Regions from separate parts of the Homo sapiens genome. Here region 2 is linked to region 1. The links come from fine-mapping of genetic effects on gene expression. Tissue or cell type: esophagus mucosa. Region 1 holds a variant in brackets; the other region holds the start of a gene. All regions are shown on one strand. Distances are from middle to middle.

The links. PIP is the estimated chance that this variant, and not a neighbour inherited with it, causes the effect.
Region 2: it holds the start of KLC3, and the variant in region 1 is fine-mapped to the expression of KLC3 in esophagus mucosa (GTEx, PIP 0.94).

Annotation. Positions count from the first base shown.
Region 1 is chr19:45,389,005-45,397,004 of GRCh38, forward strand. It overlaps PPP1R13L (protein phosphatase 1 regulatory subunit 13 like), which reads right to left. Exons shown (of 13, transcript NM_006663.4): 4 at 7,541-8,000; 5 at 7,334-7,432; 6 at 7,164-7,255; 7 at 6,432-6,882; 8 at 2,876-3,336. Among named protein-coding and RNA genes, the nearest start is that of PPP1R13L, 12 kb to the right of the region's middle. RefSeq lists enhancers at 2,239-2,298, 2,549-2,598, 2,560-3,078, 3,079-3,595. The variant T/C (reference allele first, on the strand shown) is at 4,202.
Region 2 is chr19:45,337,238-45,345,347 of GRCh38, forward strand. KLC3 (kinesin light chain 3) reads left to right here and starts at 3,513. Exons shown (of 13, transcript NM_177417.3): 1 at 3,513-3,609. RefSeq lists a silencer at 3,409-3,498.

The DNA of each region.
Region 1 (8,000 bases):
TGGGATTACAGGCATGAGCCACCGTGCCCAGCCTAACTTTATAATTCTAAGATCGTGTTCAAACCTTTAAATGCTCTAGGGCTCTAAAATGTTACTATCCTAAGACGGTGACACTAGCGTTTGATTCTTACATTCTATGATTTTTTAAGTTTCTCTGTGGCCAGGACTCTGTGATTCTACAATGGGATGCTCAGCCATTTCAACATGTTGTTATTCATCCCCTCTTGATTTCAAAATCCTGAGCCTCAAGGTTCCTTGCCTTTACTTTCAGGAGGGCCTAGGAATAGGCATTTTGGGGGGGTCCACCTGACCCCTGCTTCTCTGAGAAGTGATCTCTTCCCGCTGTCTACGCACACGGAGTGTTCAGGACTGTTCCATGTGGCTACAACCCTCTTCCCAGTCAAGATGCAGGGACCAAGATCAGCAGGAGACCATCCCCTGGTCCAATGGTGACAACAGTAAGAGCAGTTAACAGTTATGTGCCAGGTATTATGCTAAGCACTACATTAATGTATTTAATCTTGGCGGGGTGTGGTGGCTCACACCTGTAATCCCAGCACTTTGGGAGGCCAGGGCGGGCAGATCACTTGAGGTCAGGAGTTCAAGACCAGCCTAGCCAACACAGTGAAACCCCATCTCTACTAAAAATACAAAAATTAGCCAAGCGTGGTGGCATATGCCTGTAATCCCAGCCACTTGGGAGACTGACGCAGGAGAATCACTTTAACCCAGGAGGTGGAGTCCAGCACCCAGCCGAGACTCACTTGTTTTTATTTATTTATTTATTTATTTTTATTTTTATTTTTTTTGAGACGGAATCTTGCTCTGTCACCCAGGCTGGAGTGCAGTGGCGCGATCTCAGCTCACCACAAGCTCCGCCTCCCGGGCTCACGCCATTCTCCTCTCAGCCTCCAGAGTAGCTGGGACTACAGGCGCCCGCCACCACCCCCAGCTAATTTTTGTATTTTTAGTAGAGACGGGGTTTCACCGTGTTAGCCAGGATGGTCTTATCTCCTGACTTCGTGATCCGCCCGCCTCGGCCTCCCAAAATGCTGGGATTACAGGCATGAACCACCACGCCCGGCCTATTTATTTATTTATTTAGAGATGGAGTCTTGCTCTGTCGCCCAGGCTGGAGTGCAGTGGTGCAGTCTTGGCTCACTGCAACCTCCGCCTTCCGGGTTTAAGCGATTCTCTTGCCTCAGCCTCCTGAGTAGCTGGGATTGGAATGAGACCACCACTTCTCCTGTTGTCCTTCCCAGCTTCTCCCCCACCTCCCCTTTTCCCTAGTTTATAAGACAGGAAAAAAAGGGAGAAAGCAAAACGCTGGAAAAAAACAGAAGTACGATAAATAGCTAGATGACCTTGGCGCCACCATCTGGTCCTGGTGGTTAAAATAATAATAATAATATTAATCCCTGACCAAAACTACTGGTGTTATCTGTAAATTCCAGACATTGTATGAGAAAGCACTGTAAAACGTTTTGTTCTGTTAGCTGATGTCTGTAGCCCCCAGTCACGTTCCTCACGCTTACTTGATCTATCGTGGCCCTTTCACGTGGACCCCTTAGCGTTGTAAGCCCTTAAAAGTGCTAGGAATTTCTTTTTCGGGGAGCTCGGCTCTTAAGACGCTGATGCTCCCGGCCGAATAAAAACCTCTTCCTTCTTTAATCCGGTGTCTGAGGAGTTTTGTCTGTGGCTCGTCCTGCTACAGAATTACAGGCACGCGCCACCGCTCCGGGCTAATTTTTGTATTTTTTTAGTAGACAGGGGGTTTCACCATGTTGGTCAGGCTGGACTTGAACCTCTGACCTCATGATCCACCCACCTCGGCCTCCCAAAGTGCTGGGATTACAGGCGTGAGCCACCGCGCCCGGCCGAGACTCACTATTTTATAAGAGGAGAGAGCAAAGCCAGGAACAGTGGCTCATGCCTCTAACTGCAGCAATTTGGGAGGCTGAGGCAGGTGGATCATTTGAAGTCAGGAGTTTGAGACCAGCCTGGCCAGCATGGTGAAACCTCATCTCTACTAAAAATACAAAAATTAGCCAGGAGTGGTGGCATACACTTATAATCCCAGCTACTTGGGAAGCTAAAGCGGGAGGATGGCTTGAACCTGGGAGGCGGAGGTTGCAGTGAGCCGAGGTCAAGCCACTGCACTCCAGCCTGAGTGATGGAGCAAGACTCTGCCTGGAAAAAAAAAAAAAATAGAGGAGAGAGCAGAGCAGACACAAGAGACACAGAGACAGAGAGGGAGAGAAGAGAGGGTGACTGCTTTGATTCAGGCAAGACTTCTCAGTCCCAGAATGAACCCACTGTTGTGCCAAGACTCAGTCATGTCCAGGTGTATGACTCGAGATTGCTGAAGGAATGCCCGGGGCAGGGCACAGGCACAGGTTATTGGAGAGAAGGAGCAGAGAACATCTCTATGTGGCCAAGACTCCCAGATGGCCCTCCATATAGTCACACACAGCTATCCTAAAGACTACATTTCCCAGCATCCCATTGCAATGAGGCTCCTGGCCAGTGGGAGCAGGCAGAGTGATGTATGGAACTCCCAGGTTCTGCCTGAAACAGGAAAGGGCACTTTCTCTTCTTCTTTCTCTCTTCCTGGCTGGAGGGCAGACTTGGTGACAGCCATCTAGGACCATGAAGGCAGGCTTACTCCCCGATGGATGGCAGAGCCCCAGGTAGATAGAGCCTGGGTCCTGACTCCAGTGAGGTGCCTACAGTCCTGGGCTGCAAACTCTTGGACTTCTACTCAAAAGAGGAGAAAACTTCGATCTCATCTAAGCCACTATATTTGGGGGGCTCTTTGCTACAGCTCCTGGATTCATGTAGCAAACATACCCCGGTTTCCTCCTGTATTACTTACCATGCTCTGCGGCTGCTCTGGTGGGCTGCTCTGGGACGGGGCCGGGGGTGGAATGGGAGCTGGTGGGGCAGGAGCAGGGGGCCCTGCCCTGGCCTCAGATCCCTCAGTGATGGGGGACAGCTCTGGCTCCGGCCCCCCGGGCCCTGGCCCCCCATGACGATGGAAGAGGCGGCTGATGATCTGCTGGTACTGTTTCTTGTGGGTAGGGGGCAGGGCCACAGCAGGGGCCTGCTCCATGGAGCCCCTGCGTTTGAGGGGCCGGGGAATTTCCGCCAACACCCGTGCCACCTCCTCCAGCTCGGGCACCGACTGTGCCTCCGGTGGCAGTGCTGGCTGCAGCCTCGTGGGGCTGAGAGGCCTTGCTACAGGGCCTTCATCCACATCGCCAGCCTCCAGCACTGGTGTCAGCAGCCCCTCTATCTCCGGCTCAGGCTCCAGCTCGGTGGGGGGTTTGGGGGGTCCTAGCCGGAACAAGAGCCCATCAGAGGACAGGTCCCCAGGAGACACCCAACACTCCCTCTCCACAACTTCCAGGGCATACAACCAGCACATGATTTTCTGTGTGACCTCAGGGAAGTTCCTTGCCCTCTCTGGGCTACACTTTCCTTGGGCTGTGAATAATATACAATTATGATGCCTCCCATTTATTGAGCAGTTAGTATGTGCCTGGCGCTTTACATGCCTACCTTATTGTAATCTCACCACTGCTTTGTGAGGTAGATACACTGCCATCTCCACATTACCGAAAGGGAATCTGGGCCTCAGAGAGGACAAGTCAGTTGCCCAAAGCCATGCAGTTGGGACTTGAACTCAGTTCTGGCTGACTCTAGAATCTACTTCTACCAACCGTGATAGATGTGATTTTCTGAGATCCTGAGAGTTTCCTCTCCTAACATCTCAGGCAGAAAACTCCAGCAGGAAGTAGAATCCTGGTGTTTAATGATTTCTTCTCTGTCTTACTCATTCTGACAGTAAAGCAGGTGGAAATAAAAATATGCATTATTGGCTGAGTCGAGTGGCTCACACCTGTAATCCCAGAACTTTGGGAGGCCGAGGCAGGCAGATCTCTTGAGATCAGGAGTTTGAGACCAGCCTGGCCAACATGGTAAAACCCTGTCTCTACTAAAAATACAAAAAAAAAAAAAAAAAAAAAAAAATTAGCTGGGCGTGGTGGCACATGCCTGTAATCCCAGCTACTCGGAAGGCTGAGGCACAGGAATCGCTTGAACCCAGGAGGCGGAGGTTGCAGTGAGCCGAGATTGCACCACTGCACCACTGCACTCCAGCCTGGGCAAAAGAGTGAGATTTCATCTCAAAATATATATA[T/C]ATACACACACACACACAAACACACACACACATTATATATATAGTGTATATATATTTTTATATAGTATGCATATACATATAAATAATACACACACACACACACGGCTGAGCATGGTGGCTCATGCCTGTAATCCCAGCACTTTGGGAGGCTGAGGTGGGTGGATCACCTGAGGTCAGGGGTTCGAGACCAGCCTGGCCAACATGGCAAAACCTCATCTCTACTAAAAACACAAAAAATTAGTTGGGTGTGGTGGTGCATGCCTGTAACCCCAGCTACTTGGGAAGCTGAGGTAGGAGAATCGCTTGAACCTGGGAGGTGTAGGATGCAGTGAGCTGAAACCTCACCACTGCATTCCAGCCTGGGCAAGAAGAGTGAAACTCCATCTTGGCTGGGCACGGTGGTTCACGCCTGTAATCCCAGCACTTTGGGAGGCCGAGGTGGGCAGATCATGAGGTCAGGAGATCGAGACCATCCTGGCTAACATGATGAAACCCCGTCTCTACTAAAAATACAAAAATTAGCTGGGGGTGGTGGTGGGCGCCTGTAGTCCCAGCCACTCGGGAGGCTGAGGCAGGAGAATGGCGTGAACCCGGGAGGCGGAGCTTGCAGTGAGCAAGCACCACTGCACTCCAACCTGGAAGAAAGAGCGAGACTCTGTCTCAAAAAAAAAGAGTGAAACTCTGTCTCAAAAATAAATAAATAAATAAACCCCAAAACACACACACATACACATTATTTCATTGAATCCCCGTCACAATTCTATAGGGTAGATATTATTAATCTCTCTTCACAGACGGGAAACAGAGTTTCGGACAAGTAATTTATCTTCAGTCACACAGCAAGTTAGCAGTGAAGAGAGACTCCAGCCCATCTGCTTAACTCACTGATCTCACACCTCAAAATATTAATAAATTATTATAACTAATATGGTAGCTATTTATTTGAGACTGGGTCTCACTCTGTCACCCAGGCTGGAGTGCAGTGGCGCTATCACAGCTCACTGCAGCCTGGATCTCCCAGGCTTAAATGATCCTCCCACCTCAGCATCCTGAGTAGCTGGGACTACAGGCGCCCACTACCATGCCCGGCAGATTTTTTGTACTTTTATTTTTAGTAAAGTCTATTTTAGTTTCACTATGTTGCCCAGGCTGGTCTTGAACTCCAGAGCTCAAGCAATCCTGTCTGCATTAGCCCACCAAACTGCTAGGATTACAAGGGTGAGCCACGGTGCCTGGCTAATATGGTAGCTATTGATAGCTTACTATGTATCAGATCCTATTTATTTATTTATTTTTGAGACAGAGTCTCACCCTGTCACCTGTGCTGGAGTGCAGTGGCATGATCTTGGCTCACTGCCACCTCCGCCTCCTTGGCTCAAGCTGAGTAGCTAGGACTACAGTGGTGAGCCACCATGCCCAGCTAATTTTTTTTTTTTTTTTTTTTTTTGATAGAGATGGGATTTCATCATGTTGTCCAGGCTGGTCTTGAACTCCTGACCTCAAGTGATCTGCCCACCTCGGCCTCCCAAAGTGCTGGGATTACAGGTGTGAGCAACTGCACCTGGCCCATCAGGTGCTGTTTTAAAGGCTTTATATGAATTTAATAACATATGTCAATAGGATCGATTCTATCATTATTTGCCTTTTTTTTTTTTTTTTTTTTTGAGGCAGAGTCTCCCCGTCACCCAGGATGGACTGCAGTGGCGCAATCTCGGCTCACTGCAACCTCCACCTCCCGGGTCCAAGTGATTCTCCTGCCTCAGCCTCCCAAGTAGCTGGGACTACAGGCGCCCGCCACCATGCCTGGCTAATTTTTGTATTTTTAGTAGAGATGGGGTTTCATATTGGCCAGGCTGGTCTCGAACTTCTGACTTTGTGATCCGCCCGCCTCGGCCTCCCAAAGTGCTGGGATTACAGGCATGAGCCACCGTGCCCGGCCCATTATTTCCCTTTTACACTCAAGAAAATTGAGGCCCAGTGAGGTTAAGTGACTTGCCCAAGGTCACACAGCGTGGAACCAGGCAGTCTGGCTTCAGGGTCCACACTTAACCTTTGAGCTATCCCTGGCTCCTACCCAAATTCCCAAACTCACCTGGCCTAGCTCTCTGCAGGGACAGTGCTTGTAAAGAGGCATTTGGCTGTGATCTCCCCACCTCCCAGGGCTGGTCTGGTCCCCCTGCCATTTGTCCTCCCTTCACCCAGTCCTCTAGGGCCCTCATTGCTGACTCACCTTCGTTCACAGGGGGCCATGTCTGTTGGGGATGCTGGGGGGCTGGGGTAGGGGTTTGGGGTTGGGTCTGGGGCTGTGGGGGCAGCTGGGGCTGTGGTTGTGATTGTGGCTGGGGCTGTGGTTGTGGTTGGGGCTGCAGCTTAGGCGGGGGTGCTCGGGTGAAGAGGGGGGACCCAGGGAGCATGGCGCGGCTGGCCCCGTGCTCCCAGAAGGCGTTCTGCAGCTTGAAGATCATGCTGAGGGGGATGGGACGCTGGCGCGGGGCCCCGCGGGGCTGGGGGCTGGAGGGGGGCATGGGGATGCGGCTGACGGGCTGCCAGCTGCGAGGCAAAGTGCCCGACGGCCCCGCGGAGCCCAGCGAGCGCCGGTAGCTGCCCGCGTCTGAACGCCGGTCGCTGGCCAGAGGAGAGACCTTGTAATTGCGCGGCAGGGTGGCGCTAGTGAGGTTGTCCTGGGGAAGAGGGAAGGGAGAAGGGGATCGGGTGAGAGAGGGAAGGTGGAGGGGAGGTAAAGACAAAAGACGAGAAGGGAGAGGAGGTGAGGGAAGCCCTGGGAGTGAGGGAGAAGAAAGGGTGAGGAAGGAGCAGAAACCCAGCACAGTGAAGGGAGAGCGTGGGAACGGGCGCCGAGACCCAGATCGCAGCCCCGAGGGGGAGACTGGCCTTGACCCCGCTCCCCCACCCCACTCCTCGACCTTCCCCAGCCTCTCCTCCCCAGGCGTCGCCTCCTCACCTTGCCGGTGCCCCCCAGTCCATCCAGGCTGCTCTCCCTCCAAGGCAACAGCTGCAGGCTCGGCGAGGCAGGCCTTGCGAAGACGTCCAGGCCTGCGGGGCGGGAATCATTAGGGTCTGTGGGGCTGCCTCTCCTCCGGGTCCTCCATTCCCCGGGCCTCCACCACTCACGTTCATAGCTCGCTGTCTGCGAAGGCTTCTTCTCGTACGCCACGTCCAGGTCAGACTCGTTCCAGGCTTTCGGAGGCCGCCGGCGCAGCGTCAGGTCGTCTGGGGAGAAGTTTCCAGGGAGGATGAGACGGGAGGGGTGGCGAGCCCCGGATCCTGCCCGCTTTGACCCCGCGAGTCAAAGGCCCCGCGAGGGGCCCCTGGGTTCACCTTGCGCGCGCAGAGGCGGGGCGAATGCGCTGCCGCCGGAGCCTAGCAGGGAGCTCCCGAAGGCGGACGCTGGCGCGTCGTAGGCTGTGGCAGGGGGGCGCGGTGACGGCCCACGCTCGGGGAAGAAGGCCTGGGGCCCCTCCGCCAGGGGGCTGCCGCGGGGGGAGCCTGCGCGGCCCAGGAAGTCGAAAGGCGTGGGGGGACCCTGCTGGCGGAGCGGGCCTGGCCCGGGCCGCGGGGAGGGCGCACGGCCGAGGGAGCTGCCTGCGCCATCGAAGGCGCGGGGCCGGGGCGAGGTCGCGCGGTCCAGGCTGCCGTAGGCGTCCGGCTGCAGGTAGAGCGGGGTGCGCGGCGACGACGGCCGTCCCTTGGGGGACAGCGGGCTGTAGGGGTGTAGGGTTGGGGCACTCTCTGATCGTCCGAACGGGGTGTCTGCGCCGTCGGTGGCCGCCTTCCGGGG
Region 2 (8,110 bases), 52 kb before region 1:
TGGAAGGCCGAGGCGGGTAGATCACCTGAGGTCAGGAGTTCGAGACCAGCCTGGCCAACATGGCGAAACCCTGTCTATACTAAAAATATAAAAATTACCTGGGCGTGATGGTGCACACCTGTAATCCCAGCTACTCTGGAGGCTGAGGCAGGAGAATCATTTGAACCCGGGAGATGGAGGTTTCAGTGAGCCGAGATCATGCCATTGCACTCCAGCCTGGGCAACAGAGACACTGTCTTTTTTTTTTTTTTTTTAGGGGATGGAGTTTTGCTCTTGTTGCCCAGGCTGGAGTGCAATGACGCCATCTTGGCTCACTGCAACCTCCGCCTCCCTGGTTCAAGTGATTCTCCTGTCTTAGCCTCCTGACAAGCTGGAATTACAGGCCCATGCCACCAAGCCCGGCTAATTTTTGTAATTTTAGTAGAGACACGGTTTCATCATATTGGTCAGGCTGGTCTCGCCCTCCTGATCTCAGGTGATCCGCCCTCCTGATCTCAGGTGATCCGCCCTCCTAGGCCTCCCAAAGTGCTGGGATTATAGGCATGAGCCACCACTCCCAGTGAGATGCTGTCTTAATTAAAAAAAGGAAGAAAGAAAGAAATAGCTGGAGCTTGGCACAGTGGCTCATGCCTGTAATCCCAGGACTTTGGGAGGCCAAGGCAGGAGGATCGCTTGAGGTCAGGAGTTCAAAACCAGCCTGGGCAATATAGGGAGACCCCCATCTTTACAAAAAACAACAAAAAGTAGCTGGGTATGGTGGTGCATTTGTAGTCCCAGCTACCTGGGACTTGGGAGGCTGAGGAGGGAGCATTGCTTAAACCCGGGAAATCAAGGCTGCAGTGAGTTACGACTGCCACTGCACTCCAGCCTGGGTGACAGAGTGACACCTGTCTTTTAAAAAAGCTAGAGTAGGCCGGGCATGGTGGCTGACGCCTATAATCCCAGCACTCTGGGAGGCCGAAGTGGGTGGATCACCTGAGGTCAAGAGTTCAAGACCAGCCTGGCCAACATGGGAAACTCCATTTCTACAAAAATATAAAAATTAGCAAGGCATGATGGTGGGTGCCTGTAATCCCAGCTGCTTGGGAGGCTGGGGCGGGAGAATCGCTTGAACCTGGGAAGCGGAGGTTACACAATGAGCCAAGATCGTGCCACTGCACTCCAGCCTGGGCAACAGAGCAAGACTGTCTTAAAAAAAAAAAAATGCTGGAGTAGTTAGGATATGAGTTTGAATTTTTATTTCCATGATTCAATCAGCACCTATTCTCCCAAATGCCTTCTCTGCGTTGGGCCTGTGCTAGGTGGCACTGGGGACACAGTGGAGACTGACATGGCCCCTGGCCGCCTCCTCCCTTCTTGGGGCTCATAGTCTAATATGGGACTGACCTGTCTCCCCACACTGATGACCCAGAGTTGGCAGGGCTGGATGTGGGAGCCCAAGAGCCTGGAAACCTGGGAAATAAGAAAGGGCTTCCTGGAGGAGGAAGCATCAGCACTGGGGCTCAGACAACAGGGAAGTAGAGGGCACGTTGGCTGCAATTCGGAGGGAGCGCGGAGCTGTGCCGAGTCTGGAGTTTGGTCCACGGACCAGCAGCGCCCTCTGCTGGAAGCATTTCATAGTGTAGTGACCGGGGTACCGCGCGCATTGAGCCATGTATGTATGTATGCATTTATTTATTTTTGAGATGGAGTTTCGCTCTTGTTGCCCAGGCAGGAGTGTAATGGTGTGATCTCGGCTCACTGCAACCTCTGCCTCTGGGGTTCAAGCGATTCGCCTGCCTCAGCCTCCCAAGTAGCTGGGATTACAGGCGTGCGCTACCACACCCGGCTAATTTTGTATTTTTAGTAGAGATAGGGTTTCACCATGTTGGCCAGGCTGGTCTCGAACTCCTGACCTCAAGTGATCCAGCCCCCTCGGCCTCCCAAAGTGCTGGGATTACAGGTGTGAGCCACTGCGCCGTCCTCAAGTTATATTAGAATCGTGTCCTCCCAGCTTTGGCCAGCTTACTATTCTAGGACTTGATTCCTTCATTCAGTCACAATTTATTGAGCACCGACTTTGCATCAAGCTCTTGCTGAAGATAACAGTGCTGACAATATACAGCCCTGCCCTCAGAGCTTATATAGTAGAGGAGAAAAAGTGAACCCATAATATACAGTCAGTAGCGAGTATTTACTAAGTACTTTCTATTTGCGAGGCCCTGATAAAAGTACTGTCCTGGCCAGGCGCGGTGGCTCACGCCTGTAATTCCAGCACTTTGGGAGGTCGAGGTGGGCAGATCACCTAAGGTCAGGAGTTCGAGATCAGCCTGGCTAACATGGGGAAACCCCGTCTCTACTAAAAATGGAAAAATTAGCTGGGCATGGTGGCGGGCGCCTGTAATCCCAGCTACTCGGGAGGCTGAGACAGGAGAATGACTTGAACCCAGGAGTTGCAGTGAGCCAAGATAAGATAGCGCCATTGTACTCCAGCCTGGGTAACACAGCGAGACTGTGTCTCAAAAAAAAAAAAAAAAAAAAAAAAGTACTGTCCCTGTATTAGTTAACATTCAATTCTCAAAGCCTTAGACTATTTATATTTTATTGACTAGGGAAACTGAGGCACAGAGAGGTTAAGTTACTTGCCCAAGGCCTGCACAGCAAGTAAGTGCCGGAATCAAATTTGAACCCTGAGCCCAATTCTTAGATATCACATTCCCTTGCCAATAACATAATATATAACATAACATAATGATGTGATATATGTTATATAAAATAACTTTAGGGGCCGGGGGCGGTGGCTCACTCCTGTAATCCCAGAACTTTGGGAGGCCGAGGCGGGAGGATCACTTGAGGTCAGGAGTTTGAGACCAGCCTGGCCGACATGGCGAAACCCCGTCTCTACTAGAAATATAAAAAGTAGCCGGGCGTGGTGGCAGACACTTGTAGTCGCAGCTACTCGGGAGACTGAGATGGGAGAATCGCTTGAACTTGGGAGGTGGAGGTTGCAGTGAGCCGAGATCGCGCTACTGCACTCCAGCCTGGGTGACGGAGCGAGACTCCCTCTCAATAAATAAATAAGGTAATTTTAGGCCCTGAAAAGTTTTGTGAACAAAATCAAGAGGAGTATGTAATGTTTTGGTGGAAGGGTGCCATTTAGAAGGGGGCAATCAGGGAAGGCCTGCCGGAGGAGGTGGCCTTTGAGAAGAGACCTAAAGACGATGAGATCTGTGGGAAGAGAGATCGAAGCAGGCCACACAACCAAGGAAAAGGCTCTGGGGCAGGCACTGCAAGAAAGCCACCTGTCTGGGATCTAAAGTTTCCAAAGTTTTAGCTTGGCCAAGGCCCCTGCGCTACAATCACCCTGATTCGAGGTGTCCTGGAGGTTACCAGTTCCGCGTGCGAAGTTCTGCCATTCCCGCGGGGCTGGAGCCCCGAGGCTGAACTTCCCACGGGCGGTGGGCGTGGCCGGCTCACCTGCGGGGGCGTGGCTCCCGGCTGCCCCGCCCCTCGGAGGAGCCGCCCGAGGTCCCAGACGCCCGGCGCAGCGGGAGCGGCGGGGCGTGCCTGGCCTGCGGGACGCGACTGATCGCAGTGGGGCGAAGCGGGGCCGGAGCCGCCCGCGGTCAGGTGGGTGCCGGGAGTGGGGCGCGGGACTCTCGGAGAGCCGCGATGATGGGGGGCGGGGGCAACCCTGGGCCCGCTCGCCCTGAGACGGGGAAGGGCCTTGGGGCTCCCGGATGCCCCCTGCCCCGTCCTGGGGCTCTCCGGGATCTGGAGGCCTGGCTGGGGTCCCATGCCCCCCACCCCAGCGCAGGTAAACAGCGAGGACGGGGCGGGGCCTGGGAGGGAGAGGGAGGGGGCCCTTGTGACTGCGGGTGAGCCTGGTGCGCGGGGCTGGGCAGGCCAGGGTAAGTTGGTGCGGCTTGCGGGGCTGGGCCACGATGGGAGTCTCCTGCCTGCCTGTGTTTGTGTGTGTGTGTGTGTGTGTGTGTGTGGCTTTGCGTGTGTGTAAGAGAGTGTGTCAGGCTGTGGGTATGAGGGTGAAAGCGACTGTCCGTGTAACCCTGTGATGGGACTGTGTGTATGATGTGACACTTTTAGCAATGTGAAAACGTGGGCGACCTCTGACTGGAATGGTGTGTGTGTAGAATTGGATTGCTGGTAGCACTTTACGACCAAGAGCTAGTGCGACTGTAGTCGACTTTCTGCTTGGCCTGATGTGCATGTGTGTGGCTGTGTGTGTGGCTGTCTTCATGGCAGAGAGTGGAACTGGTTGTAGGATTAGGTGTGATTGACCAAGAGGCTGTGCGGCTGTGGTTGTCTTTCTGCCTGTTGGTGTGTGTGTGTGTGTGTGTGTGTGCGCGCGCGCGTGTGGTGGACAGTGTGGCACTGGATCAGTGATAGGTGACTATGATTGACTTTTGATTGTGTGTCACTGTGATGGTGCATGGGGCTGGGCGGAACTGTGTCCAGAAGTGGAGCTGTTTCATGGGACGGTGCGCGTGGAACCTTGGGGTTGGATGAGTGAGGTGTGGAGGTGTGTGAAGCCGTGTGTGCGTGTGTGTGTGTGTGTGTGTGTGTGTAGAGAGGAACTAGAGGGTGTGTGATCTGCATTGATACCGTGGCTGGCAGTGGTGTGCAACGGAGAGTTTGTGGGAGATGGGAGTGGAGACGTGGACATTTAAGTGGGATGCTCCTCCAAGCGGGTGACAGGATGGAAAAGGGGGTCCGCGTCAGGGATCAGTGTGTGGGACTGTGCCTATGATTATCAGCTGTGCGGTTGTGCACCCGGGGCTCTGTGTGAGTGTGGGAGCTGCTGTGTGTCTGGGACACAGCCCGAGTGCTGGATGGCTGTGGTTGAGCCGTGTTTGTTGCTGTGGTTGTCAATCTGGCTGTGGAGTGGTGTGTGTAAGGCTGTGTCTGAGGTTATAGAGGGAGGTTTTACATCGGCAAAATTGTGTGAAGAATGGTTGTGGTTGTCAGGATGACTCTTGAACCTGTGTGGTTGTGAGTTCAACCATTTATGATGTTTGTGTGTGAGGTGTGAGAATAGGTATGGTGTGATATACACAAGCACACAGATTGGCCGGGTGCAGTGGCTCATACCTGTAATCTCAACACTTTGGGAGGCTGAGGCGGCGGGGATTGCTTGAACCCAGGAATCCTAGACTAGCCTGGGCAATATGGTGATACCCCGTCTCTACAAAAACAAAAATTAGCTGGGCATAGTTTAGTTTTTTAAAAATTAAAAAAAGGTTGGCTGGGCGCGGTAGCTCACGCCTGTAATCCCAGCACTTTGGGAGGCCAAGGGGGGAGCGGGTGGATCATTTGAGGTCAGGAGTTTGAGACCAGCCCGGCCAACATGGTGAAACCCCGTCTGTACTAAAAATACAAAAATTAGCCAGGTGTGGTGGCGGGCACCTGTAATTCCAGCTACTTGGGAGGGTGAGGGAGGAGAATCGCTTGAACCTGGGGAGGTGGAGATCGCAGTGAGCCAACATCATGCCATTGCACTCCAGTCTGGGCAACAGAGCGAGACTCAGTCTCAAAAAAATAAAATTAAATTTTTTAAAGGTTGATATATACATCACATATATACACATACATATATCTAGAGAGAGGGAGAGATCAATGACGATCAAGTCTGTGGTGCACAAAACGTACAGGACCCTTACTGTATGTGATCGTGCATGTACAACATGTGCAAAAACCGCTGGGCTGCTTATGGTGGATGCAGTGGCTTGAGTGAAGTGTGCGAGAACGTGGCATCCCTCCACGCGTATTCACAGCTCTCTGTTCCGACAGTGGAGCTGAATCTGAGTACTTGTGTGTGCATGGCGTGTAGGTGTGGGAGTCCCTGCTGGCCAGGCCTGGAGTGGGAGGGAGAGGAAGTAGGGAAACTGGCGAGGGATCCATAGTGAATCTTGGGAGTGTGTGCATCTGGAGGTGCGTTGGGCACATTGTGGGGAGTTGGCTGCTTGGGAGCCATGTGAGTTCGGGGGACAGCGAGTGTCACGGTCAAGTGCAAGGAGATGGTCTGAATGTGAGTGATTTGGGGAGTGGGAGAGACAGAGTTAGTTTCTGCGTGGGTTGGCTTTTCTTTCTTTTTTTTAAATAATATTATCACTTTTTGACACGGAGTTTTGCTCTTGTCACCCAGGCTGGAGTGTGGTGGCGTGATCTTGGCTCACTGCAACCTCCGCCTCTCAGGTTCAAGCAATTCTCATGCCTCAGCCTCATGAGTAGCTGGGGACTACAGGCGCATACCACCATGCCTGGCTAATTTTGTATTTTTAGTAGAGCCGGGGTTTCACCATGTTGGCCAGGCCAGTCTCAAACTCCTGACCTCAACTGATCCACCCACCTCGGCCTCCCAAAGTGCTGGGATTACAGGCGTGAGCCACCGCGCCCAGGCTTGGTTTTTATTTCTAAGAGAATATACCTGTGTGTTGGGAGTGTATACAGATTGTTTTTGAAAGAATAGTATATGTGTGTGCCTGAGTCAGTGTGTTGTCTTAGGTTGTATTTCTAAAAGGAAAATGTAAATGTTTTTACTGAGTTGTATATTTAATAGGAGAAAGTGAGTGCGTGTTCTAAGAGGAGAATGTATATTATGCTGTCCTTTCTTTCTTTCTTTTTTGACTGGGTCTTACTCTTTCACCCAGGCTGAGTGCAGTGGCACTATCATGGCTCACTGCAGCTTCAACCTCCTGGGTTCAAGCAATCCTTCTACCTCAGCCTCCAGGTACACCATCACCACACCCAGCTAATTTTTTTATTTTTATTTTTGTAGGGATGGGGTCTCACTATGTTTCCCAGGCTGGTCTTGAACTCCTGGGCTCAAGTGATCCTCCTGCCTCAGCCAAAATCCCAAAGTGCTCGGAGTACAGGTGTGAGCCACCGCACCCGGCCTACATTGTGTTTCTAATGAGGGAGTGTGTGTGTGTGTGTGTGTGTGTAACTGTATTTCTGGGAGGGTGTGTGTGTGTACCGTCTTTTTTTTTTTTTTTTTTAAATGAAGTCTCACTCTGTTGCCCAGGCTGGATTGCAGTGGTGCGACCTTGGCTCACTGCAACCTCCGCCTCCCGGGTTCAAGCAATTCTCCTGCCTCAGCCTCCCAAGTAGCTGGGACTACAGGCATGCGCCACCATGCTCTGCTATTTTTTTTTTTTTTTTTCCAGTAGAGACAGGGTTTCACCCTGTTGGCCAGGCTGGTCTTGAACTCTTGGCCTCAAGTGATTTACCCACCTTGGCCTCCCAAAGTGCTGGCATTACAGGCGTGAGCCACTACACCTGGCCCCATGTTGTATTGGAGAGAAGGGAGAGTGCGTGTGTGTGTCAAATTGTATTTCGGAGAGGAAAATGTGTATGTTGCATTGTGTCTTTAAGAAGGGAGGGTGCGGGTGTGTGAGGTGTTTCTGAGGAGTGTGTTTGTGTGTATATGAGGACCCCAGAGGCACCACCAGCTAAGTTTCTGTGACCTTGTCACCCACATACAACCACATGAAGTCCCATAGAGGGGGGCCCCCACCCACTATGAGCTGGGCTTCAGACTCTCAGCTGTCACATGGCCAGTGTGACATACCTGGACCACACCTATCACACGTGTGTCCCGACAGGCCCTGGGCTGGCTAAGCTTGTCCGATGGAGGAGGGCGGAGCCCCTGTTCCCCCAGGGTCCATCTGTTGCCTGGGAGCCAACACATGGCCCCATCCTCATTCCCCCCAACCTAGAGGCCTCCTGGGCTTCTGGGGGCCCTGGCCCCTCGGCCCTCTCCTCCCACCCCACCCACCCCCAGTGGTCTGACTGGTTCCCGACAAAAACACCCTAAGAATGAGCTCACGCAGAGGCTGCCGCCTCCACACGCCCCGCCTCACTCTGCCGGCAGAGGAGGGTGCCTCTGGTCCCAGGTCACACGGCCAACCGGGAGCTCTGGGCCAGGGGATCCAAGGGCCTTGGGGTGGGGAAGGCTGGCCAGGTGAGCTGAGGGCAGATGGGGGACCCCAGGCTAGCTGTTTGCTTTCTCTTGGTTAATTACACATAGGATTTGGGAACTGTCCTCAGGGCAGAACCCTGGGTTGGGAGGACAGACGAAGGTAGACAAGACTGTTCCAGATGAGAGCTGGCT